4 linked regions of the Homo sapiens genome follow. The protein of the gene in region 3 interacts with the protein of the main gene of each other region in a pairwise test. Each region holds a gene or a part of one and is shown on either strand. Other genes may lie near its edges. The genes, in order: PDE4DIP, CAPN1, MYBPC3 and ACTC1.

Evidence for each region.
Region 1: the proteins of MYBPC3 (region 3) and PDE4DIP interact in binary tests that used the Homo sapiens proteins (3 or more experiments, as listed by UniProt).
Region 2: the proteins of MYBPC3 (region 3) and CAPN1 interact in a two-hybrid assay, tested with the Homo sapiens proteins (one study listed by BioGRID).
Region 4: the proteins of MYBPC3 (region 3) and ACTC1 interact in a two-hybrid assay, tested with the Homo sapiens proteins (2 studies listed by IntAct).

What each region holds. Positions count from the first base shown.
Region 1 is NC_000001.11:149,029,409-149,033,535, reverse strand, and holds the end of PDE4DIP (myomegalin), read right to left. Parts: intron 3,750-4,127; coding exon 3,611-3,749; intron 3,305-3,610; coding exon 3,258-3,304; intron 2,364-3,257; coding exon of another isoform or gene 2,312-2,363; intron 1,593-2,311; coding exon 1,551-1,592; coding exon of another isoform or gene 1,447-1,550; 3' UTR 520-1,446; downstream 1-519. UniProt on the Homo sapiens protein: Functions as an anchor sequestering components of the cAMP-dependent pathway to Golgi and/or centrosomes.
Region 2 is NC_000011.10:65,184,922-65,191,959, reverse strand, and holds part of CAPN1 (calpain-1 catalytic subunit), read right to left. Parts: intron 6,044-7,038; coding exon 5,910-6,043; intron 5,791-5,909; coding exon 5,622-5,790; intron 4,746-5,621; coding exon 4,662-4,745; intron 4,006-4,661; coding exon 3,920-4,005; intron 3,547-3,919; coding exon 3,472-3,546; intron 3,375-3,471; coding exon 3,214-3,374; intron 1-3,213. UniProt on the Homo sapiens protein: Calcium-regulated non-lysosomal thiol-protease which catalyzes limited proteolysis of substrates involved in cytoskeletal remodeling and signal transduction. Proteolytically cleaves CTBP1 at 'Asn-375', 'Gly-387' and 'His-409'.
Region 3 is NC_000011.10:47,330,868-47,335,702, reverse strand, and holds the end of MYBPC3 (myosin-binding protein C, cardiac-type), read left to right. Parts: intron 1-493; coding exon 494-661; intron 662-1,692; coding exon 1,693-1,781; intron 1,782-1,950; coding exon 1,951-2,146; intron 2,147-2,369; coding exon 2,370-2,509; intron 2,510-2,729; coding exon 2,730-2,889; intron 2,890-3,000; coding exon 3,001-3,137; intron 3,138-3,444; coding exon 3,445-3,631; intron 3,632-3,821; coding exon 3,822-3,832; 3' UTR 3,833-3,858; intron 3,859-3,986; 3' UTR 3,987-4,297; downstream 4,298-4,835. UniProt on the Homo sapiens protein: Thick filament-associated protein located in the crossbridge region of vertebrate striated muscle a bands. In vitro it binds MHC, F-actin and native thin filaments, and modifies the activity of actin-activated myosin ATPase.
Region 4 is NC_000015.10:34,792,530-34,799,822, reverse strand, and holds the start of ACTC1 (actin, alpha cardiac muscle 1), read left to right. Parts: upstream 1-4,273; 5' UTR 4,274-4,317; exon of another isoform or gene 4,318-4,680; intron 4,681-4,914; exon of another isoform or gene 4,915-4,992; 5' UTR 4,993-5,014; coding exon 5,015-5,143; intron 5,144-5,705; exon of another isoform or gene 5,706-5,981; intron 5,982-6,253; coding exon 6,254-6,578; intron 6,579-7,253; coding exon 7,254-7,293. UniProt on the Homo sapiens protein: Actins are highly conserved proteins that are involved in various types of cell motility and are ubiquitously expressed in all eukaryotic cells.

The sequences.
Region 1 (4,127 bases), on a different chromosome or scaffold from region 3:
TGAAGTGATAGCTTATTTTAATCTTGGGAATCAAAAGCATGTAGCTAAGAACTTTTCCCAAGGAATATTTTAAAATTTTTATATCAATGTTTATGGAATGACATACTTTTTGATTCAAGGTTCTTAAATGTAGTTTTAGTTTTGATTCAATGTTATAGAACACTGTTTTTTAAACTGTGATCTGAAGCCCACATGTAATGGAATCACCTGGGGTGCTTATATTAAAAAAATGCAGATTCTAGGGCTCACACCAACTAAATCTCCTGGGATTGGAGACCAGGAGGTAGCTCCTATAATCTCCACAGCTGCTTCTCAGGCACACCAAGTTTAAGAACCATTCTTTCATATTTTCAGACTGGGGATTCTTACAAAATGACAAAGAAGGAAAACCTTAATCTTTTAAAGTTAGAGTTCAAGCATTAGACTATATGCTTCTTAAACACAGTTTGTCTTTCCCATTTTCTCTTTCCAGTTCTTTATACTGTCAAGGGATTGGTGCAGAAATGGGAAACAAAGCAGTGAAAGAAAAACTATTTATTTCTTTATACACATTTTGCTTTAACAATCACCAAAAAGACTTTCATTTTCTGTCACCCACCCTGTCCACCAGTTATGTTGGCCTTCAATATATGGCGTTAGCAACATATATAAATCTATATCATATATTTATACACACAAACACATTCTACCAGCACTGTGAAGACACAGACTAGGCTTTACTAGGCTTGGGGCCTCTCCCATGCCACTTAAAAATGAGCACAGGTTTGCTCTATGCAAGAATTTCAACAGAGTTGGTCTGGCCATCAGTCTGCAATTTCCCCGAGATAAGATAGGGTGACAAAATGGGACAGCAACTTTGAAGTGAGGTCAGTCCAATTTGGATATCATAGAAGAAAAGAAATAGGATGTGCTAGGTTAAGCCTGAGATGGTATCTGGGAAGTCACCACATTCATGATGTGAACTCAAAGAACACAGGTGCTACAGTGCAGACCAAGGCCCAGCCTGACTCGACCCAACAGGGTCAGGTGTGGATCTGTGAGTAGTGCTCACTGAGCCCCCGCCAGCAGTGTCCGGCAGGGCACCGCTGCTCAGTAGTGTGCTTTTAGAACCTGCCAGAGGAGCTCCAGCATTGGGACCACGTGCCCCTTTCATCGGAATCAGGGTCCTATATTCACTGAGTTTTCCATCTCAGGACAGCTGATGAGGCAAGAAATGTGCTCTTGCTAGTTCCCAAGCTGCTGGGGCTGTTGAGAGGCAGGATCACAAAACCTTCTGTGCAAACTACGCATCTTTTTCTTAGTGCTGGGCCAAGTGGACCTTGGCTAATCGTATTCCATAGCCGTCAGAAAGGCTTTCTGCCTTTCTCCCAGCTCCACCAGGATACATCTCTGACTCCCTCTTCTGGACCCTCCCGTGGACTTGGAGGAATGAGGCCCAGATGCTCCTCAGCAGATAGGTAGCTGCACAAAAGGGGGACAGGCCCACCTTTCCTGCTGTTTTAAGGACTTCTGGTGGCTGCGCTTCTTGCATGGTTCCTGGAAGGCAAGGGTCACAAGGCTGGAGTACATGGCAGAGCCCTTAGGGATTTCACCTGCAGACAAACATAAAACAAACCAAATCAGTGTATATTGCCAGGCCCTACTGATGGCTACCTGAAGCTGGAGTGAGAGCTACGTGGTGACCAAAGCCAGGAGCACGGTGAGAGCCAGTTAAGAGGATGAGCTAAGAGCATGCGCTGCAGTCTGGAGGAGCAACAGGTGCCCGAGGTTAGGGGGAGCCTCCCCACCTCCCTGTGTGCTGAGATCCCTGCTCCAATTCACTGCACACTGGGTGGCTGGATCCTACCACTCCCCCTTCAGGGGCCAGGTGACTCTCCAAATCACTTTGTCTCAGCAGAAAGAGGCCTTTGCCATGTCCACCCAAGAAAGAAGTGCTTAGCATGAAACATGCACATATAGAAACAGCCTGTTTGTAGGAAGAAGAGGACATTTTGCTGGGAAGCCCTCTGTTAAGTTTATGTCCAGTTGCCATAATGAGGGTGTGGAGGGGCCAAGTCCACAGGGACCTCAGAGCTCAACTAAGTCCAGTTCCATCTTTGACAGATGAGGGTGCAGCAGTCTCACAGAGACTAAGGGACAAGCCAAAGCCACACAGCAGTTAGTGATAAGCCAGGGATTAGAACCGAGGCCTCGGGTCCTTTCCAGTGATCTATGGGAGGTGGAGGGGAAAGCTTCCACACTGGAGAAAGCCAGTGGATACTAGAGATTTTTGGGTTACCTTTTAGTGGATACTAGAGACTTTTTGGATTACCTTTTCTGGGACAGGAATAAGGCTTTACAGAGGCAATCCTGTAAGTGCTGCTCTAAAGAGGCTCAGGAAAGAGAAGAATTATCAGAGAAAAACAAAAGGGAATTAGTGAAAAAATAAAAAAAAGAGCAAGTTAAACTGGCCCAAGTCATTTTCACACTATGGAGATCAACATTCTCTCAGGTTATGGATTAGAAACATTTCTAGGAATATGCTGAATTGCTTATGGCAAAGCTTTGATGTCCATGTTAAAAGGTTTAGTTTCTGATTTTTAACCATTTCATATACCTCAAGTTTTTCTTCAAAGCACTTCCTAGGGAATGATTAACACTTAGTGTTTTAAGTAAATGTAGATAATGTCTGGTACATATATAACATTTTTTCCCTGAAGGTTCAGTTGTTATTTATTAACAAATTCGCTTTTAGACCAATGAGACCCAACAGATCTCTTTTGTCATGTTACTTAAAGATATAGCAAAATCAAATTGCTGTTCTTAACCCGGGAATGTGCAGTGAAATCAGTTTATTAGGTTGCAAATTGCTTTTACTTTTTCATGAAGAGTAGAACACATAACTGGCCTCAAGATCCCTCTACTAGAAGCTCATTCAGAGGCAGACTCCCGAATGTCTAATGACTTCAAGAGTCAGCTGAATTGCATTTCTCCAGTCTCTGAACTTGGCCTCAAAGAAGAAAAATTGGAGTAAAAAGGAGAGATGATGACAATGTGAGAGTGAACCAAGATACAGGGGCAGGAGCTGACGGGGTGGGAGGGTGATGGGGACAGAAACTAGCAGGATGCTCACTGAGGACCTGTGATCTTGCAAGTGGACCCCAAGTCTTCTCCTGGAAGGCCAAAGCAGGCCAAGGGTCACCTACAAGATCTGCTAACGGATGGTGATGGGTGGGGGACAGGCTTGGTGCCTCTGACTGGTGCAGTAGTTTCCTTACCTCTAAGTTAGTCCTTGCCTTCTTTAAAACATCATGTGTTCTGGTTACTGAAACAACAAAAGAGCACCACAGAGTAGAAACCACCAGCAGAAATTAACCCTACTTGCTTAGCATGAGAATTCTAAAGCATTTATTTCTTTCTGGCTATTCAGCTTGGAGTCTCCTTCTATCCACCCCCTGTCCTCCCCTCCCTCTGCAGCCACAATTGCTCCTGGTACAGGAGGTTTGGGGACATCAAATCAGTCTCAACTCCCAACATCCCCAAGCCCCCCTGGTCACTGCTCATCTGCAGCACAAGTGGGGCATCGGGAAGACTGCCTGTTTCTTCCCCCATTCCCTCTCAGGGAACCTACGCTGGCTGACGATGAACTGCTCCATGCTCTCCTTCTGCTGGTTGGCGTTCTTCAGATGCTCAGTTGTGCTCTGAAGGAGTCGCTCCTGTTTGGATACTTTGGTTCTCAGTTCCAGAAGTTCCCTTTCTGTTGATTCTCCCTGGATAAGAGGAACAGACTCTTACTGACCAGGCAGAAGGCCTAAAGCACCCTGTGCTTTGTGGCTCTTTCCAATTCAAAGAAGGATTCTACAGTCTTCTCAACTCTCTTGAACTGGATTTCCTCCTTCACAGCCTCGGATACCTCCAGCTGAGGACAGTTCAGGATGAGGCCATTAGGCAGGAATAATGAGACTCTGGAATTCCCCATGCAGACTAGCACAGGCCTACACACCTGTAGCTTAAGAGAACCTCGCCTCAGGCTGGTATCAAACTCCCAACTCTGAAGAGGACCTTGCTTTAGTCCTGATATCAGTTCTGTCACTCTCCCTTCACAGGTAAGATTGAGAGTTCAGAAGTGTTATGCTGGGGTGAGAGAT
Region 2 (7,038 bases), about 18 Mb from region 3:
TTTAACAATATTAAACTTCATTAGTCTGATAAAAGGTATCCACAAAAAACCTAGATTAGAAAGGTACTTAGTGGTGAAAACTTCCCCTTTAAGAGTGAGGCTTAGTTAATAGGGTTGCTCCTAAAAATAAGAATAAAAAAAAGGGAGGAACAAGAGCAGGAAGCTCTACAGTTCTAGGCAGCATATTAGACAAGAAAAAGTAACAAAAGTTGTAAGAATTAGAAAAGAAGAAACAATCTGTCATTATTTGCAGATGCTATATTCCTAATTAGAAAACCAAAAAGGGCTGGACGCAGTGGCTCACTGTAATCCCAGCACTTTGGGAGGCCAAGGCAGGCAGATCACCTGAGGTCAGGAGTTCGAGACCACCCTGGCCAACATGGTGAAACCCTGTCTCTAATAAAAATACAAAAATTAGCCAGGTGTGGTGCCGCACGCCTGTAATCCCAGCTACTCGGGAAGCTGAGGCACGAGAATCACTTGAACCAGGGAAGCAGAAGTTGTAGTGAGCTAAGATCGTGCCAAAAAATACATACAGATGAATCAGTAAGATTAATTAGTTTTAAAAAATTTGCTGGATATAAAAACTACATCTAAAAGGTCAAATGCATGTTATCGTATGAGCAACAAGATCACTTGGGAGATGTAATTTTAAAGAACATACTATTTATAATAGAAACAAAATTATAGTGTACCTAGCATTAAATCTCAAGAGATGTATAAATTCTTTATGATAAAAAATACAACATTCTATTGAAAGACATTAAAGGCCAAAATAAATGAAGAGATACACCATATCCTTGGATAAGACTTAAAATTATAAAAATGTCAAGTCTCCCCAAATTGGTCTATAGGTTTCATGTAATTCCAAATTAAAATCTCAAAATGGTTTTTCAAAAGACTTGGTAAACTGATTCTAAAATTCATTTGGAAAAACAGAGGTCAAGAACAGCTAAGACAGATGCAGTGGCTCACGCCTGTAATCCCAGCAATTTGGGAGGCTAAGCCAGGTGGATCACTTGAGTTTGAAACCAGCCTGGCCAACATGGTGAAACCCCGTCTCTACTAAAAATACAAACATTAGCTGGATGTGGTGGCGGGCACCTGTAATCACAGCTACTCAGGAGGTTGAGGCAGAAGCATCATCTGAACCCAGGAGGCAGAGGTTGCAGTGAGCCGAGATCGCGCCACTGCACTCCAGCCTGGGCAACAGAGCAAGACTCCGTCTCAAAAAACAAAAACAAAAACAAAAAAAACCAACAACAAAAAAAACAGCTAAGAGACTCTTGAAGAAGGAATTTGCCCTGTCCAACAGCAGGACTTACACATCTGTAGTAATGGATTCAATGTGTTATCGGCAGAGGGATAGACCCAGGGACAGAATGGTGAGTCCAGAAACAGACCAACACATACCTCAGGACTACTTGAGGGCGCTAGTGCTGCTGGGGAGAGACGAGATGATGTATTTCTCAATAAATGGTACAGGGAACGGTGGTTATCTATTTGGGGAAAGACTGAAATTGGATCCCTACAAGGGAGAAGAATGCTTCAAAACAGAGGGCAGGGAGCCGTGCTGAGGATGCAGCACAGGAGGACAGAGCAGCGGCGGATCTGGCAAGGCCAAAGCTTAAGTGACCTTTGAGAGGGTGGTTTTAGCAGCATGGTAGGGATGAAGCTGGACTGGGAAGGGTTAAGCAATGAAGCAGAAGTGAGAAAGGAAATAGGGAGTATGGTAATTCCTGATAAATTGTGCTTTGAAGGAGGGCGGAGAAATGAACAGGGAAGTGGGGTCGAGAGGGTTGCTTTGTGTTAAGACAGAGGACTCTCCGTAATGACACTGGAGAGAGAGGTGACAGATGAAGGAGCAAATGCTTTCAGAGGTGAGGGAGAATGGGATCTGGAGCAGACGTGGGGGTCCCCATGAACAGGGACTGTTCTGCCACTGTCGCAGGTGGGGAGGCGATGAGGACACAGGCACAGGTGCAGAAGGCTGGGGGATTTGGAGGTGGGAACACAAGGTGTCCTGCAGGATGAAGTCTATCTTTTCAGTGAAGTGCAAGGCCAGGCCCGAAGGTGAGAGTAACAGTGGGGAGATATCGAGGTGAGAGTGGAAATGTTACTAACCAGTAGTGGAATTGCTGGGGATTATGGAAAATGCTCATTTGAGATTTGTGGCTAAGAATTTACAGGGAAAATATGGCATCGGTTATGTGATTTCTCTCCTGCCACACTCAATGGTTCCCAAGCCAGTGGAGATGGGTTTTGTGCCAGATGATGGGAGACAGGGGCCAGGGAACTGAAAGTGTTTGTAGGAACAAGATTAAAATGATAGCTCTAACCTAGGTAAGGAGAGAAGGCAAGATGGGAGAGGCAGGATGGTACGCAAGTGATGGGTTCAACGGACTGGCTTGGTCGAAGGGTTGAAGACTAAGGGAGTGGAAAGAGTCGAAGGTGGAGGTCAGAGAGCGGGTGTTTGCAAGACAAGGCAGCTCTGGTGCCCTCATGGTGGGGGCTGAGCTAAGGTAGAGAAAAAGCGTGCTGCAGTGAGAGTGACAAGGAACTGAGAGGCCAGGCTGTGGCCCACATCAGCCACATGGATCTAGAAGCCCAGGGAAAGGTGGCAAGAGAAGGCAAGAAGGGACCTGGCACAGTGGCGCACGCCTGTAATCCCAGCACTTTGGGAGGCCAAGGTGGTCGGATCACCTGAGGTCAGGAGATCGAGACCAGCCTGGCCAACATGGAGAAACCCTGCCTCTACTAAAAATACAAAAATTAGCTGGGTATGGTAGGTGCCTGTAATCCCAGCTACTCGGGAGGCTAAGGCAGGAGAATTGCTTGAATCCGGGAGATGGAGGTTGTAGTCAGCCAAGGCCACGCTACTGCACTCCAGCCTGGGCAACAGAGTGAGACTCTGTCTCAGAAAAAAAAAAGCGAAGGCAGGAGGGAAGGGCCCAGGAAAGGAGTGACAGGCAGGTGGCTGGATGGCCACAAGATCTTTGCCCCTCATGAGCACCCTGGGCTCAGGCCCCAAGACGGTGAGTCAAGCATGCCTCTTTAAAATTTACTAGGACATTTAATATTTTACTCCTCAAAGCAAATTCAAGAGATCAGCCTATATCTTGCAAGTGAGGAAACGGAGGCTCAGTAAGATGACGTGCCTTCTGGAGCCCCTAAGCCAGGAAGCAGCAAGACCCAGAGCCCGCCCCTGTGCACCTGGGTAGTTTCGGCAGCCCCCCGCGGTGCTCCCCCGCCGCCAGGTGCCTTCGTAGAGTGTGGTGTTCCATTTGCGGATGGTCCGGCTCTTGAGGGCGTCGGGTGTGAGGTTGCAGATCTCCAGGCGGGTGAACTCCCGCATGAAGTCTCGGAATGACATCCTGAGGTGGGAGGTACACAGGTGAGGCACAGCCCGTCAGGGCACAGAGCTGATGTGTAGGGGTGGAGAGGTGGGGTAGAAGGGGAGGGGGCGCTCACCAGAACTCCCCGTCCTCCATCTTGACCCGGAGCTGGTCCCGTTCATATGGGTCCACGTTGTTCCACTCTGAGGAGCTGTGAGGAGCAGGGCTCTGCCAGGGCTGGTGGGCACTGACCTGCCTGGCCTCTGTCCCTGGGGCCTGTCTACCCTGGCCTGTCTTCCCCCGGCCCAGCCCAGGTGGCCTCCTCAAGGTCAAGCGCCAAGGTTCCGCTTCTAGGGGGTGGTCTCATCAGGGCCAGTCTGATGCCCTGCACACACCCGACGGCTGGGCACAGGGGCCCGCACGGCCTGAGCTTTGTCAGAGCAGTCCCCCAGACCCAGTCGCGCGAAGATGGGCCCCTCTGCTCAATCCTGAGTCCAGCCTGGCCTGGTAGAGTCCCGAGCAGAAATGTCGGGGCACCTAACAGTTTCCCCAAGGCACTCCAGACAGTGCCCACTGCCCCTCACCTGTCGCTCCAGGCTCCCGTCCACTCCACCTCGCCCCAGGGGTTCCGCATCCGGATCAGGCTCACCACCTGGCCTCGGTAGTTCACCTATTTGCCAGAGCTCCTGTCAGTGCTAGCTTCCAGCAGGCACTTTTTTTTTTTTTCTTTTTTGAGACAGAGTCTTGCTCTGTCACCCAGGCTGGAGTGCAGTGGTGCGATCTCAGCTCACTGCAACCTCCGCCTCCTGGGTTCAAGCAATTCAATTCTCTTGCCTCAGCCTCCCAAATAGCTGGAATTACAGGCACCTGCCACCACACCCAGGTAGTTTTTGTATTTTTAGTAGAGACAGAGTTTCACCATGTTGGCCAGGCTGGTCTCGAACTCCTGACCTCAGGTGATCTGCCCACCTCAGCCTCCCAAAGTGTTGGGATTACAGGTGTGAGCCAGTGCACCTGGCCCATGCACGCACTTTAACACTCCGCCTCCCATACCCTCATCCTCTCCAAGCCCTGCTCAGCACCCAGATGAAGCCTGTCCTCTTGGAATTCACAGCCCAGGCAGGCAGCTGCACACATGAACTACAGTCAGTCAGGGCAGGACATGATAGGCATCTCAGATGGGTGTCCCCAGAAGAGAGATAAGGTGCTGCAGGAGGGGAAAGGAGGAGCCAGCACCTTCCACAGCCCTGGTCAGGTGCCAGAGAGGCAAGGACAGGCCAGGGGGCAGGAACCGCCCTTCAGGGAAGGCCCCACCCAGGGCAGTACCTGCTTGGCCCCGGTCACAGAGTAGGCATGGCCCTTCACCAACTTCTTGAAAGTGATGGCCTCCATGTCTAGAACGCTGGAGATCTGCAGAAAGAGGCACACACTGTGGTCAGTGGCTAGGTCCCCCCGCCCTATCAGATGAGCCCCCAGCACTCAGGGTCTTGGACGTTCCCACTTGCACATACAACAGTTGCTAGGAGAAGCAAGCAGGGACCCCGATCCCACCTATAGACACCCCCACATATAGATGCTGCTCTTTTGGAGAGGGGTAGCCTGGGTACCCCACCAATGCTGCCACTGGGACAGGGGAGCCCAGGCACTCCGCTGACACTGCTACTGGCCAGGGCTGACCAGAACCTGTGCGAACATGCATGTGCACACACACAGCCGTGCACAGCCCACCAGAGCCACACAGCCCTCAGTGGGCCTCACGGAGAAGGACGTGAGGACAGAAGAGTCAGTTAGAAATGGGAATGGGAGCTGGGGTTAGAGCTGCGGATGGCAGTGATACTGGGGTCAAGTCTGGCGTTGAGGACTGGGGAGCGGAGTTGAGTGTGGGAACAGAGGAGCAGGGAAGGGTGGGAATGGAGTGAGTGTGGGATTGAGGCTAGGGATGGGTGGGAACTGAGACCAGGAGATGAAATCTGAGGCTGGTGAACTGGACAGAGGATGGCATGGATTGAGATGACAGGAATGAGGGAAACAGCATGGTAGACGGGAAAACAAGCACAGGAAAGAGCTGAGGTGTGAAGTTTTGGGGGAGGAGTGGGTAGGTGAGGACAGGAGCGACACCAGGCATGGGGGGTGGAAGTGATGGATGAGGCAGGGTATGCATCCAGAGATGAAGCTTAAGTGCAGGACAGGGTCTGGAGCGGAGCCTGGGTGGGGATTTTAGAAAATGTGACAGGTCAGGATACCAGGGTTCCAGGGTACCAAAGCATCGGGGCCGGGCACACTCACGTCTATGGAGCAGCCCAGCAGGGAGCCCCGCTCCAGCGCCTTGAGGATGATCTGGTAGAGGTCACTGGGAGCCTTGCGCAACTCGTACCACTCGGTAACCCCGCCTGTGAAGTCCTCAAAGCCCTCTGAGGTGCTGCCCCCTGACAGGGCCTCGTAGCTGCCATTTACCCTGTGGGCAGCTCCAGGTCAGCACTCTGGCATCAAGCAGGACCCTCTGAGAAGACAGTCATGAGCCCCCACCCCTAGGGGGAGCTGGAAGCTGGAGTTGCCCCCTCAGCCGCTACTCACTTGGCATAGGCCTTCTCAAGCAGGGCGCTCCAGAACTCGTTGCCTTCGGCAGAGTGCACGAACACTAGCTTCCCGTCCTTGATGGGCAGCAGGTCATCCACGACCACGTCCACCCACTCCCCAAATTGCCACAGCTGTGGGGGAGGGGCACGGTGAGTACCTGCTTTGGAATCCCCCGGACCTGAGCTCCATCCTTACCCCTACCTTCCTAGATGCAGGATTCTACATCCCAGATACATACTAGATACACATAGACTAAATCATGTAAATTAGATACATACTAGATGTATACTAGGTCAGGTATACCAGATACATAGTAGATGCATGTATACTAAATCACATATACTAGATACATACTAGATGCATGTGTACCTCTAGATACATGTATGCTACAGATATACTAGATACATGTATCTAGGTATTGAAGGAAATCAAAGTATTTCACCCTGAAATATACTTCTTCAACATATTTTGAGATAGCTGTTCAGAGGGTCTGCAAACAGAAGTAGCCCTGTAATACTGTCTTTTGTGGGGGAGATTTGCATCTGTAGAGAAAATCTGCATTGATGTAGCCAGGCTTTCTCTAAGGCCTTCCCTTGTCAGACTGAGAGCCTGACACCCTTTAAAGGTCTGAACGAAACAATTACCATCTATTCCCTCTGAGGGCTGCTACCTGTGAGGTTTCATCTACATAACAAGACTGCCTTTGCTACCCAGGCCCCCTTTTCTCCCCCTTCCATAGTCTGTCTTGCCACTATAACCTGATTTACCACCAGAAACTGGTTTTGGCCATGTTCGAGCCCCCATTCTTCCTGTAACCTCAGGATGGTATATAGGCTTCTGTACCCATTGTGGGGCTGGGGTGAACACTCTGTGGTTCCCGACCCCACGCTGCAGGCTAATCAATTTGTATGCCATTTCTCCTACTAACCTCCTTTTGTGAGTTGATTTTTCAGTGAACCTTCAGAGGGCTAAGGGGATGCTTTCCTTTGCCTGTACAATGTATACTAGATACCTGCATATTTGCTGTATACTAATACATGCATACCACATATAGACATGTGTATACTTGATATGTACATGTATGCTCGAGACATACTAGCTACATGATCCTGGAAAAGTTATCGCC
Region 3 (4,835 bases):
AATGCAGAGTAAAGCTGACTGTAACACTTCTTTGAGCAGTGCGAAATCAGCAACTACATTTTAAAAACATATTTAAGGCCAGGCGCGATGGCTTACGCCTGTAATCCCAGCACTTTGGGAGGCCAAGGTGGGCGGATCACCTGAGGTCGGGAGTTCGAGACCAGTCTGACCAACGTGGAGAAACCCCGTCTCTACTAAAAATACAAAATTAGCCGGGTGTGGTGGTGGGCACCTGTGATCCCAGCTACGCGGGAGGCTGAGGCAGGAGAATCACTTGAACTCGGGAGGCAGAAGTTGCGGTGAGCCAAGATCATGCCATTGCACTCCAGCCTGGGAGACAAGAGCGAAACTCCATCTCAAAAATAAATAAACAAATAAAAATTTAAAAAAACATATTTAAATCCTGGAGATTCCTATCAGAGGAGTGGGCAGTGGGAGTGGGGTGTCAGTGGTGACACAGCCTGTGGCCTTGCCTCCCCCTCCCCACCCCCAGGCTCAGAGTGGGTGGCTGCCCTGCAGGGGCTGACAGAGCACACATCGATACTGGTGAAGGACCTGCCCACGGGGGCCCGGCTGCTTTTCCGAGTGCGGGCACACAATATGGCAGGGCCTGGAGCCCCTGTTACCACCACGGAGCCGGTGACAGTGCAGGAGATCCTGCGTGAGTGCCCCTTTGTGCAGTCACAAGACCCGCCATTGACACCCCAGGCCCTTGGTGTCCAGTGGAGGTGGGGACAGTTGGGGAGGCCCAGAATGCTCTGCCCAGAACGCTGGGCAGAGACAGGAGGGGTTGGAGCCATCGTCCATGCGCTAGGCCTAGGGAAAAAGTGCAGAGAGGGTGGCCAGGCACAGTGGCTCAAGCCTGTAATCCCAGCACTTTAGGAGGCCAAGGCAGGCAGATCACTTGAGGTCAGGAGTTTGAGACCAGCCTGGCCAACATAGTGAAACCCTGTCTCTACTAAAAATACAAAAACTAGCCAGGTGTGGTGGCGCGTGCCTGTAGTCCCTCAACTACTTGGGAGGCTGAGGCAGAAGAATCGCTTGGACCCGGGAGGTGGCAGTTGCAATGAGCTGAGATCACACTATTGCACTCCAGTCTGGGTGACAGAGTGAGACAACGTCTCAAAAAAAAAAAAAGTGCAGAAAGGGCTCTCTTGGTGTATGTCAGTCCCTTAGTTCTGGAACAGGGAAAGTAAAAGCCACAGTACCCAAGCTCTCTTCCAGGAGTGTCTCAGCTCCAACAGGTAAATATTGTCTATGTAGTCAGATTGGTCCCTCTGGGATCCACTTCCCATTCCTTTGTTCCTTGTCCCAACAAAGGGTCCATCTTTTGTAAGGATTGGTTCTCAAAGCTGGAACGAGGCAGCAAACTCAGGTGGTAACAACACAGGGCATAGGGTGTCAAAGCCCAGGCTTACACCCTGGTCTATGACTTACTAGCTGTGTGACTTCAGTCAAGTTGCTTACCCTCTCTGATCCCTGCCTTTTGAAGTGGTGAGGCTCGGGGAAGCCAGCTGGGCTTGGGCAGCCTGGAGTTGCTGTGTTAGCAGGAGCTAAAGGAGGCGCAGGGCCCAGCAGGCAGCTTTTTTCTTAGCTGCAGCTCTCTGGGCCTTGTCTCAAGGGAGGTTGGAGCTGTGGAGCCCCTCAGAGCTGTGGCGGGCCCTCACTTAGCTACCCACTCTATACCCACAGAACGGCCACGGCTTCAGCTGCCCAGGCACCTGCGCCAGACCATTCAGAAGAAGGTCGGGGAGCCTGTGAACCTTCTCATCCCTTTCCAGGTGGGACTGGCCCCCTTCCCTGTCCCCCAGGGGAGAGAGGCTATAGTGTGTTGTTCCCATCCAGTGGACTGATGTCTCAGGGCTGGCCTGATCTGAGGTACCAGAGGCTGGGGTGGCGGCCGGCCCTTGGAGTGATCCAGGTTCAGGGTTAAGCTTTTCCTCCCCTCAGGGCAAGCCCCGGCCTCAGGTGACCTGGACCAAAGAGGGGCAGCCCCTGGCAGGCGAGGAGGTGAGCATCCGCAACAGCCCCACAGACACCATCCTGTTCATCCGGGCCGCTCGCCGCGTGCATTCAGGCACTTACCAGGTGACGGTGCGCATTGAGAACATGGAGGACAAGGCCACGCTGGTGCTGCAGGTTGTTGGTGCGTGGCCAAGGCCTCCTTGAGCCCCCTTGTTTCCCTTCCCTGGGCTGGGCTGCTGGGGCCAAGGGTGGGGCCAGGGGACCCAACCCACAGCTCACATTTTCCAGTCCACTGCCCCAGCAGGCCTGGCCCTGGTTGGCAGGGGTGGGGTGGTCCCTGGAGCCAGTGACCCCCTGCTCACTGTCAGGAGGCGTGGTGACCCAACTGGGTCTGTCTCCCGCAGACAAGCCAAGTCCTCCCCAGGATCTCCGGGTGACTGACGCCTGGGGTCTTAATGTGGCTCTGGAGTGGAAGCCACCCCAGGATGTCGGCAACACGGAGCTCTGGGGGTACACAGTGCAGAAAGCCGACAAGAAGACCATGGTGAGCCCAGGGTCTGGGGTCCCCACGTGCACCCTGCCTAGGCCCGGCAGACCCAGGCCGCAGCTACCCTTCACTGTCCTCACCGTGGACCCCTCACCCTCCCTCTGCTGATCTGAATCCCTCCATAGTAGGGGTGGAGATGCCAAGGGCACCCAGGAGAGGCTCTCGGCATCAGGAAGGGCCTGGCCCAGAGATGCCTCCCCTCCCTCCCTGCCCCCAGGAGTGGTTCACCGTCTTGGAGCATTACCGCCGCACCCACTGCGTGGTGCCAGAGCTCATCATTGGCAATGGCTACTACTTCCGCGTCTTCAGCCAGAATATGGTTGGCTTTAGTGACAGAGCGGCCACCACCAAGGAGCCCGTCTTTATCCCCAGACCAGGTGCTGTACCCTCATTCTTCCAACCAGGGGCTGGGGCAGGGAGGCTGTGGGAACAGGGAGAGGGGCCTAGCTTTGTGTGGCCCTCTCGGTACCAAGTCCTGTCACCAACAGGCATCACCTATGAGCCACCCAACTATAAGGCCCTGGACTTCTCCGAGGCCCCAAGCTTCACCCAGCCCCTGGTGAACCGCTCGGTCATCGCGGGCTACACTGCTATGCTCTGCTGTGCTGTCCGGGGTAGCCCCAAGGTAGGGAACTTTAGGCGCTGGTCCAGGCCGACCAGGAGGCAGGGCTCACAGGCCCCGACGTTGAGCAGTCCTCTCCCCAGCCTGTCTCCCCTGCTTTCTCTCCACCTTGGGGTGTATGGACCGGGTTCCTCCCCCTGGGCAGGGCCATGGTACTCACTCTTGGTTCCATGTTTGTTTCCAGCCTTGGGCATAGTCAGGGACTCTCGTGGGACCCCCCGAGTAGAAACACAGATGTGTCTCCCTGGGTCCCTGCCAGGTCCCCTCTCAGCCTGGATGGCTTCCCTCCCTCTCTTTACCTTATTTATAGCCCAAGATTTCCTGGTTCAAGAATGGCCTGGACCTGGGAGAAGACGCCCGCTTCCGCATGTTCAGCAAGCAGGGAGTGTTGACTCTGGAGATTAGAAAGCCCTGCCCCTTTGACGGGGGCATCTATGTCTGCAGGGCCACCAACTTACAGGGCGAGGCACGGTGTGAGTGCCGCCTGGAGGTGCGAGGTGAGGAGCCCTCGGGGCCAGGGCCTGGGAGATGGGAAGAGCGGGCGGCAGTGGGGACCCTGGGCTTTGCTCCGTTGTCCTCGGCCAAGCACCTGCCCTGGCTGCAAGGGCACGGACCCTGCCACGCCCAGATGGGCAATAGCTTCCAGAAGGCTGGGAGGACACAGTGACATGGCCTCCTCTTCTGCAGTGCCTCAGTGACCAGGCTGGCTCCTGGGGATGGCCAGGTATGTACCACCCGACACCCAGGGCACAAGTCAGTGGCTGAGCCCTGGCCCTTGGTCCTGGGGCAGCCATCAGTAAATGGGAGGCTGTAGGGGCCCTCCATTCACTCGTAAGATAACCTGTGTTGCAGGTACAACCGGATGCCAGCCCCGTGCCAGGAGCCTGGAGGGAAGTTGGGGAAACCCCTCCCTACTGTTGGATGTATGTGTGACAAGTGTGTCTCCTGTGCTGCGATGGGGGATCAGCAGGGCAGTTGTCGGGCAGTCCTGAGTGGGTGTTGCACAGACTGGTCCACAGGGCTCCTGAAGGAAGCCCCTGGATCTTTGGGGTAAAAGGAGGGTGGCCTCAAGAAACAATGTCTGGGGACAGGCCTTTCTGGCCTGCTATGTCTTCCCAATGTTTATTGGGCAATAAAAGATAAGTGCAGTCACAGAGAACTCACTCTTCTCAATTTCGGTGTGCCTGTTTTCATAAAAATGCACAGGGGATGGCCAGGTGCGGTGGCTCATGCCTGTTATCCCAGCACTTTGGGAGGCGGAGGCGGGCCGATCACCTGAGGTCAGGAGATCAAGACCAGCCTGGCCAACATGGTGAAACCCCGTCTCTACTAAAAATACAAAAATTAGCTGGGCAAGGTGGCGCGCCTATAATCCCAGCTATTTGGAAGGCTGAGGCAGGAGAATCACCTGAACCCAGGAGGTAGAGTTTGAGGTGGGCCGAGATCATGCCACTGCACTTCAGCCTGGGTGATGGAGTGAGACCATGTCTCAAAAAAAAAAAAAGAAAAAAGCCCAGGGACATTGATCTTCACAGCAAAGTGAGAGCAGATACTGTTTTTTGTTTTGTTTTCCCGATGATTAAACCAGGCCCAGAGTGGTTTCTGAGTTCATAAAACATTAACGCTAGAAGGAACCTGTCTTCCCCTACAGCATTCACTCTTCAGATGATGAAACTGAGCTGTGACAGCGGAAAGTGCATT
Region 4 (7,293 bases), on a different chromosome or scaffold from region 3:
AATAGGAATGTTTAGGAAGGCTAGATCCTCCCCCCGGTCTGATCTAAACCGAGGCTCTCCCTCCCCCGGCACACAGAATGCAGGAGGGACAGGAGGTGATGGGGAGGGCTCATGGGGAGGAATTAAGTGTGGCTCTGTCTGTTTCTGGCTTCTCTGTAAATACTGTGACACCTCCGAACGGAGGAACAGCTGAGATAAGTGACTGCTAATCCCCCAGTGCCGGGGAGGAGGCTGGGCCGCTCCCTTCCAGATCCCAGCAGATGGTGGATGAAACAGACTTCCCCCGAGGCAAGGGCAGTGGGAACTGTCCCACCTTCTGTTCCTTCAGTTTGCCCTGCACGTCTCCCTCATGGCCAGTCCACGCCGAAAAGGGCTTCACTGGCCCTCAAGAGCCCTGGGGACCCGCCCCAGCTCTGCCATCCCACTGGGATCTACAAGGTCAGCCAACCTGGACTCCAGCCAGCACTGGCAGCTTGGGCAGCATCCAGCAAAGCTCTGTGGGCTTCAGAGAGAACAGCCAAGCAGTGCGGCTAAGTTTTTCACTCTGCAGAGAAACATACCTAGGGGAGAACAGTGAGGGCTCATTTAAAATGCAGATTCAATCTTCCAGGGTGGAACCCAGGAATCTGAATTTCTATGAGGCAGTCTAGGTAATTTGGCTGGAGGCGGTTCTAGCATCACATTCTGAGAAATAGCAGACCAAGTATATGTGAAGGTATTTTTGGTGGTGGTTGGGAATAGGGCTTAAAATCAGGTGCCTGAGTTTGAATTGTCACTCCACCATTTGCTCACCTGTGTGACCTCAGACAAAAAAGGCTCAGTGGTTCCCTACCTCATAGGATATAAACTGGTCTTTCTCAAACTGCAGGAAGCACAATTTAGTCACAATTAGCAATAAAAAAAATAACACTCGGAGACTGCACAACAATGTGAATGCACTGAACACTTTTGAACTCTGTATTCCTAAATGGTTAAGATAGTAAATTTGATATATGCATATTTTACCATAATTAAAAAAAAATCTAGAATGTACCAAAGAGGAGATGTCATTTTTTTCTTCTTTGTTTTGTAATTTTTTTTGAGATGTCATTTTTATATGCTTAAAAAGCCAATCTCAATTTTCAAATTAAGTGGATCTGTAAAAAGTAGTTTAAATAAAACTCAGTCATGAAATCTTACTTTCCTGTTGGTTTACATTTTAAAATATATAAAATAGGGTTCAAAGTTTTTAAAATGTGGAAATCAAGGCCAGGCTTGGTGGCTCATGCCTGTAATCCCAGCACTTTGGGAAGCTGAGGCTGGCAGATCAGTTGAGCCCAGGAGCTTGAGACCAGCTTAGGCAACATAGTGAAACCCCGTCTCTTCAAAAAATACAAAAATTAGCGGGGTGTGTTGGCATGTGCCTGCAGTCCCAGCTGTTTGGGAGGCTGAGATGGGAGGATCAGCTAAGGTGGGAGAATCGGCTAAGGTGGGAGGATCACCTGAGCCTGGGAGGTTGAGGCTGCAGTGAGCCCTGATTATACCACCGCACCTGATTATACCTGGGTAACAGAGGGAGACCCTGTCTGAAGCAAACAAACAAATACATAAAAATAAAATAAATAAAATGTGGAAATTGAGTGGTAATACAAATAGTAAATATCAAACAATCATAAATTTTTAAGAAATAAGCATTCGTTCTTGCTACACACATAACACATATGAAAATACACTGTTTTGAGTGTTAGGCAATGAAATTGAGCGGAATAGGAAACACATTTTTCAAACATTTTAAGGGTGAATATTGTTTCACAAAACTGCTGTTGTGTCCTGCACTGTTCTACTGGCCTCCCACTAGAGCCAATGGTCCTGAGATGAGGGGGCTGGAAGTGGCCTCCTAGATCCCCGAAGCCTGTGCGAAGGACAAAGGTCAATAATCATGGTTTTCCATTCCTGAGAGTCTTTGCACCTATAGCAGTCATAGTGGGAGTCTCTCACCAGCCACTCCCATGCAGAAACTCTTTCTCTCACACAAATGTTCATAAACTTCAGTTCTGCTCTACTTTTAAAAACGAACAACACATCCTGGGGAAGGCTTTCTCGGCAACTCTTTCAGACCTCCATTCCCTTTTTGTGACTATCCTGCTGATACCTCTTCTTCCCTCCCAGTTTGTGCCATAGCTGTCTGACTTTTCTGTAATTGCCACGGAGGATGAGTCCTGCTCTGTTTTATTTATCACTGAATCCTTAACTAGCACAGTTCTTGTCCTGCAAAGATTTGCTGAATCAATGAAGAATGAAATCAACCTGATTCTTTAAAAGGCAGAGCTACTACTGCCTCCAAAAGTATCATTATTACACATACAATTTGCTTTGTATCTTCCATATTACTTACAGCATTTGTTTCTAACTATTACAATACACAATAACTTCTGCAACAAGTGTTATGGTATCACTTTTGAGAGGGAAAACTTGGGGCTTGGGAAGGTTAAGTGTCTTGCTCAAGACCAAACAGATAGTTAGTAAGTGATAAAGGCAGCATTTGAGCCCAGTTCTGTCTGGCTCTGACACCAGTCCCATTTCTCCTTTTCCTTGGTTTTTCTATATTTTCACGAGACAAGGCAGTTCTACTCTTGGCATCCTGTCAATAAACATTTTCACTGTAAAATGCCTGCTGTGCTGCACAGAGTAATCTCAGCCAGGTCTCTTACCCGACCCCACCACACAGCTGCCCATCGCGTTTCTTCTCCAGACCAACCCAAACATGGTTGGGGAGTTCAGAGGGGAGGGCCCAGCATTCCCCAGTCGGGACAAGTATCTAATCAGCAGGCCTCCTCAGCATATCAGCCCAAGACCACTCTAGAGAGAGATGCCAGTGCCCAGTTTTCTATTTTTAACTGGTGTGAACTGGAGGAAAAACACAAGCATTAAAAATCAAAGCTCCAGTCAAGAACTGAGAATGCAGGGCACCCCAGGGCAAACTAGTGATCTGTGTCCTTCTTACATCTCCCTCTTCCTTCTCCCTCTCCTCATTTCATGTCATTTTTCTTTTTCCTTCTCAAAAGTTCAAGATCCTGCAAAATCTGTTTTCCACAGAGGAGATGATATCTGTCATTTATGCCAATGCTTCTCACACTTTAATGTACATACCAAGCAAATGAGGATCTTGCTGAAAAGCGGATTGGGATGGCTCTTGAGATTGCATTTCTAGCTCATTTCCAGGTTATGACAATACTGCTTGTCCATGGGCTGCACTTTGAGTAGCAAGGATTGGTGTAGTCCTATAGTTTAAGTTGTTGCTATGTTCTCCATCAAAGTATTTGCCTTTGCAGTCTTGTCTCCACCTGGAGTGAGGGCCTCTGCCCCCAGTTTAAAGATGCTCATCTCCCCACCATCAAGTGGGCAAGCTACTTTTGGCATTTGTTCCTTTATTCACTTTGGCAGCAGGGGATCCTTTTCTGGCCTGAAGACCAGAGTCTGAATTTGAGCAAAACCCTGCAGCATGGATGAGGGCTACCCAATAACTGGGCTGGGGTAAACCTGGTCCCTTCTCCAGCAAGACTTGGCCAAGCTCTCACAGAAACCCTTTTCTGACTCTTCCCTGGCCAGACCCTGATCCATGCATGGGTTGGAACTCGGGTGGCCTTGGTTAATCTCAGCTTTCTGACCTAGATGAGCCCAGCACCAGCTCTCTGAGTAAAGCCATTCAGGCTGGCGGGGACTAGACCAGAAGGGTGCCCTGTCCTGGGTGCCCCTTTTGCAGCCACTCAGATGTGCTGCTGCGGTGTCCTTTGTGCTGGTGGCAGCCCTGGAAGATGAGAAGCCGCTGTTGCTCCCCTGCTGCCCTGGCCCAGCTGTCAGGACCCCTCAGCAGAGGGCAGGGCGCCAAGCCTTCCCACTGCATGTGGCTTATTGTCCCCAAGGCTGGCAGGGCTGCGGAGGACCGAATCCACAGACCATCCAGGGAGCACCCACACCCCAGAAAGGGGGAGGGGTGGGCTGGCGTCACTTAGTCTTCCCCTGCCCCCTACCCTTCAGCGCCTGCCCCTCCCCAGCTCCCTATTTGGCCATCCCCCTGACTGCCCCCTCCCCTTCCTTACATGGTCTGGGGGCTCCCTGGCTGATCCTCTCCCCTGCCCTTGGCTCCATGAATGGCCTCGGCAGTCCTAGCGGGTGCGAAGGGGACCAAATAAGGCAAGGTGGCAGACCGGGCCCCCCACCCCTGCCCCCGGCTGCTCCAACTGACCCTGTCCATCAGCGTTCTATAAAGCGGCCCTCCTGGAGCCAGCCACCCAGAGCCCGCTGCCGCCGGAGCCGAGCCGACCCGCCCCGCCGACGGTGAGTCAGCGCCCGGCCCTCCGCGTTCACTCCTCGCCTGGTCCGCGGGCCGCGCCGGACGCCAGCCCCGCGCCGCCACCTGGCCAGCCCGGCCCGCATTCAGCCAAGGCCCCAGCTCCTGCCGCTCTGCGACTGCCTTTTTTTTTTTTTTTTTAAAGCCCACACTTTTTGATTTGGTTCTAACTTGTTTTGTCCTGGGCGTTGGTCCTCGCAGGACCTCGCAGGGGCTCTAAGAAGGGGAATTTTGTGGCTCCCCAAGGGGCTTTTGGGTCCCTACTCTCGTGCGCTTTCCCCTCCATCTGGGGCACAGGCATGGCGATATGGACAGGGCTGGAGATCGAGTTCCCAGTTCGTGAAAAGGAAGAAAGTTAAAGGGCTGGGGAGGACTAAGGGGCTGGGTTTCTTGGGTCCCTCCTTGCACCTGGCACCCTAGCTGGAACTCCTGGCCAGGGAGCCTGGGTGGATTCCTCTGCCCTTCTCTGTCCCCAGTCTCCTCCGCGGCTTCTTCCCTCCCTTTTATGATTCGAGGGGAAGGGAGGTGGCAGGAGTGTTCCCCGCCCAACCCCCTGTCCAGTCCCCACAACCCCCTTCTGCTCTGTCCTGTCCTCTGGGTGCGGAGAAGGCCAGCTGCACAGGCAGCTAAGCGTGGTCCGCCCTCCCCTCCTCAACCTGCAGAACCCCCTGAAGCTGTGCCAAGATGTGTGACGACGAGGAGACCACCGCCCTGGTGTGCGACAACGGCTCTGGGCTGGTGAAGGCCGGCTTTGCGGGCGATGACGCGCCCCGCGCTGTCTTCCCGTCCATCGTGGGCCGCCCGCGGCACCAGGTAAACTTCCCGCCGAGCCCCCCGTCCCACTCGGGACCCCTTCAGTCCAGCGATCTAGGAAATGGCTCTCACCTGACCCTCTTGTTCGATGAACTCTTTAGGCCAAATTAAGAGAAGGCTGATTGACTTCAAATCCAAGCCAAGGCAAGCAATACTCCACAAAACCCCAACATACTGAGGAATGTACACCTGAGTGGCACGCCTCTAAAAGGGTCCCACTCCCTGGTGTGAAAGCCACCTGCTTCTCTCCACTAATGGCCTTTTGGACTTTTAGTCTTTAGTGTCTTCTCTGCCTTATACACTTCATTTTCTTCCTTGTCCTCTCTTTTCAGTCCTGTTTAAAACTTCTAACAATATCACCTCTCCCAACCAACCAGGACCAAATCCACATTCCTCTCTCATGTTCACAGCCAGTTTACAGGGTTCCCCAAAGGTGTAATCAATCTATCTCCTTCCTGGCTGTTGCATTTTTAGAAGCCAGGCGTGACAGAGGCAGCAAGTGCCATGGTGATAGTGACATACCACCTCGTTTGTTAAAAGACATGCCATGCTCTCTGGGTTTGTCACATGCCTGGCCAGACAGGCTGCCAAGCAGGAGAGCTTAGTCCTCAGAGCTGGTGAATGACTCCAGAACAGCTCTGGACAGGCTGAATTTCACTGTTGGAGTGAGGATGGCATATCAGCCCATCATTATGTGTTCACTTGAATGTCAAAATCTTTTTCTTAGGAGAAATACAATGTGTCATTAATTCAGTCATTCCAAAATGCAGTCATCTATATTCCAGTTGACATGGGTGATGAGCTTAATAACTTAATGAAGGCATATGATATTTTTAAGGTGAGGTGAGGCTCTGCTTCTTCAGTGGAATAGCTTCATTCTCTCCTGAGTTATATTCTCAACAATAGAATTATACATCTTTGGGGGAGTGGGGAGAAGGTAGAAGATTGATTTTTAAATAATTCTTCTAAATTGGGGTAAAATCGTATTGCTTGTTATTTCTGGTATTTAAATATGTTCCTTGACTTGGGCAGTTAGATATAAATGGACAAGACACTGATTATATTCCTGACATGGTGAGAGCATGATTTTCTCATTTTTTCTTCTCATAGGGAGTTATGGTGGGTATGGGTCAGAAGGACTCCTACGTAGGTGATGAAGCCCAGAGCAAGAGAGGCATCCTGACCCTGAAGTATCCCATCGAGCATGGTATCATCACCAACTGGGACGACATGGAGAAGATCTGGCACCACACCTTCTACAATGAGCTCCGTGTGGCTCCCGAGGAGCACCCCACCCTGCTCACAGAGGCCCCGCTGAACCCCAAGGCCAACCGGGAGAAGATGACTCAGATCATGTTTGAGACCTTCAATGTCCCTGCCATGTACGTGGCCATCCAGGCAGTGCTATCCCTGTATGCTTCTGGCCGTACCACAGGTATGCTGGGCTCTGGGGACAGTTACTGATGAATCACATTCCCAAGTCACCGACCTTGCTGTGAATCAGATCCCCCAGTTGAAAAAGGGATAATCCCTTTCCTCCCATTCCCTAGCAAGGTCTGTGCTAAGAGAAAGAGTTAACAGTAGTGCCCTGAGGTTAGTTTCGGAGCACAATTATTGTTGGAGCTGATAGCTTGTGGAGATAGGTCCTTCCCTCATTTAAAGCTCAGCGCAGTGTAGCAGCTTGGAGTGCAGCAGTCATTGTTATGTGTTTAAACCATCACATCACCTGGGCAAGCATCCCCAAGGAGAATACATTCCATACAGGGTCTGAGTCAAAAGAGAGAGAAACGTGTAAGTTCAATAGGAGCAAAGAAAAACACCCTTGGGTGCTTACATAATGTGCTCGTGGCTGACAAGAAAGATGGTCATTTGAAAGTGTCCTCGGGAATTTTTTCTACTATAATAGTTAAAAAGATGAGCTGCAGTTTGCTTCAGATTTAGTATTCCTGATGCGCATTTTTATTCTTTGTGTGTAAGGAATCTAATTTTATCTGGATCAATGCCCATTGCTAGCATCTCTTAGCCAAGATTGGAAGCGGGCTTTGCCGTGGCTAGAGCAGTGGTGTTGTCCTCAGGAATTTACCTTGTTCTTGTCTACTTCCCCGGGCAGGCATTGTTCTGGACTCTGGGGATGGTGTAACTCACAATGT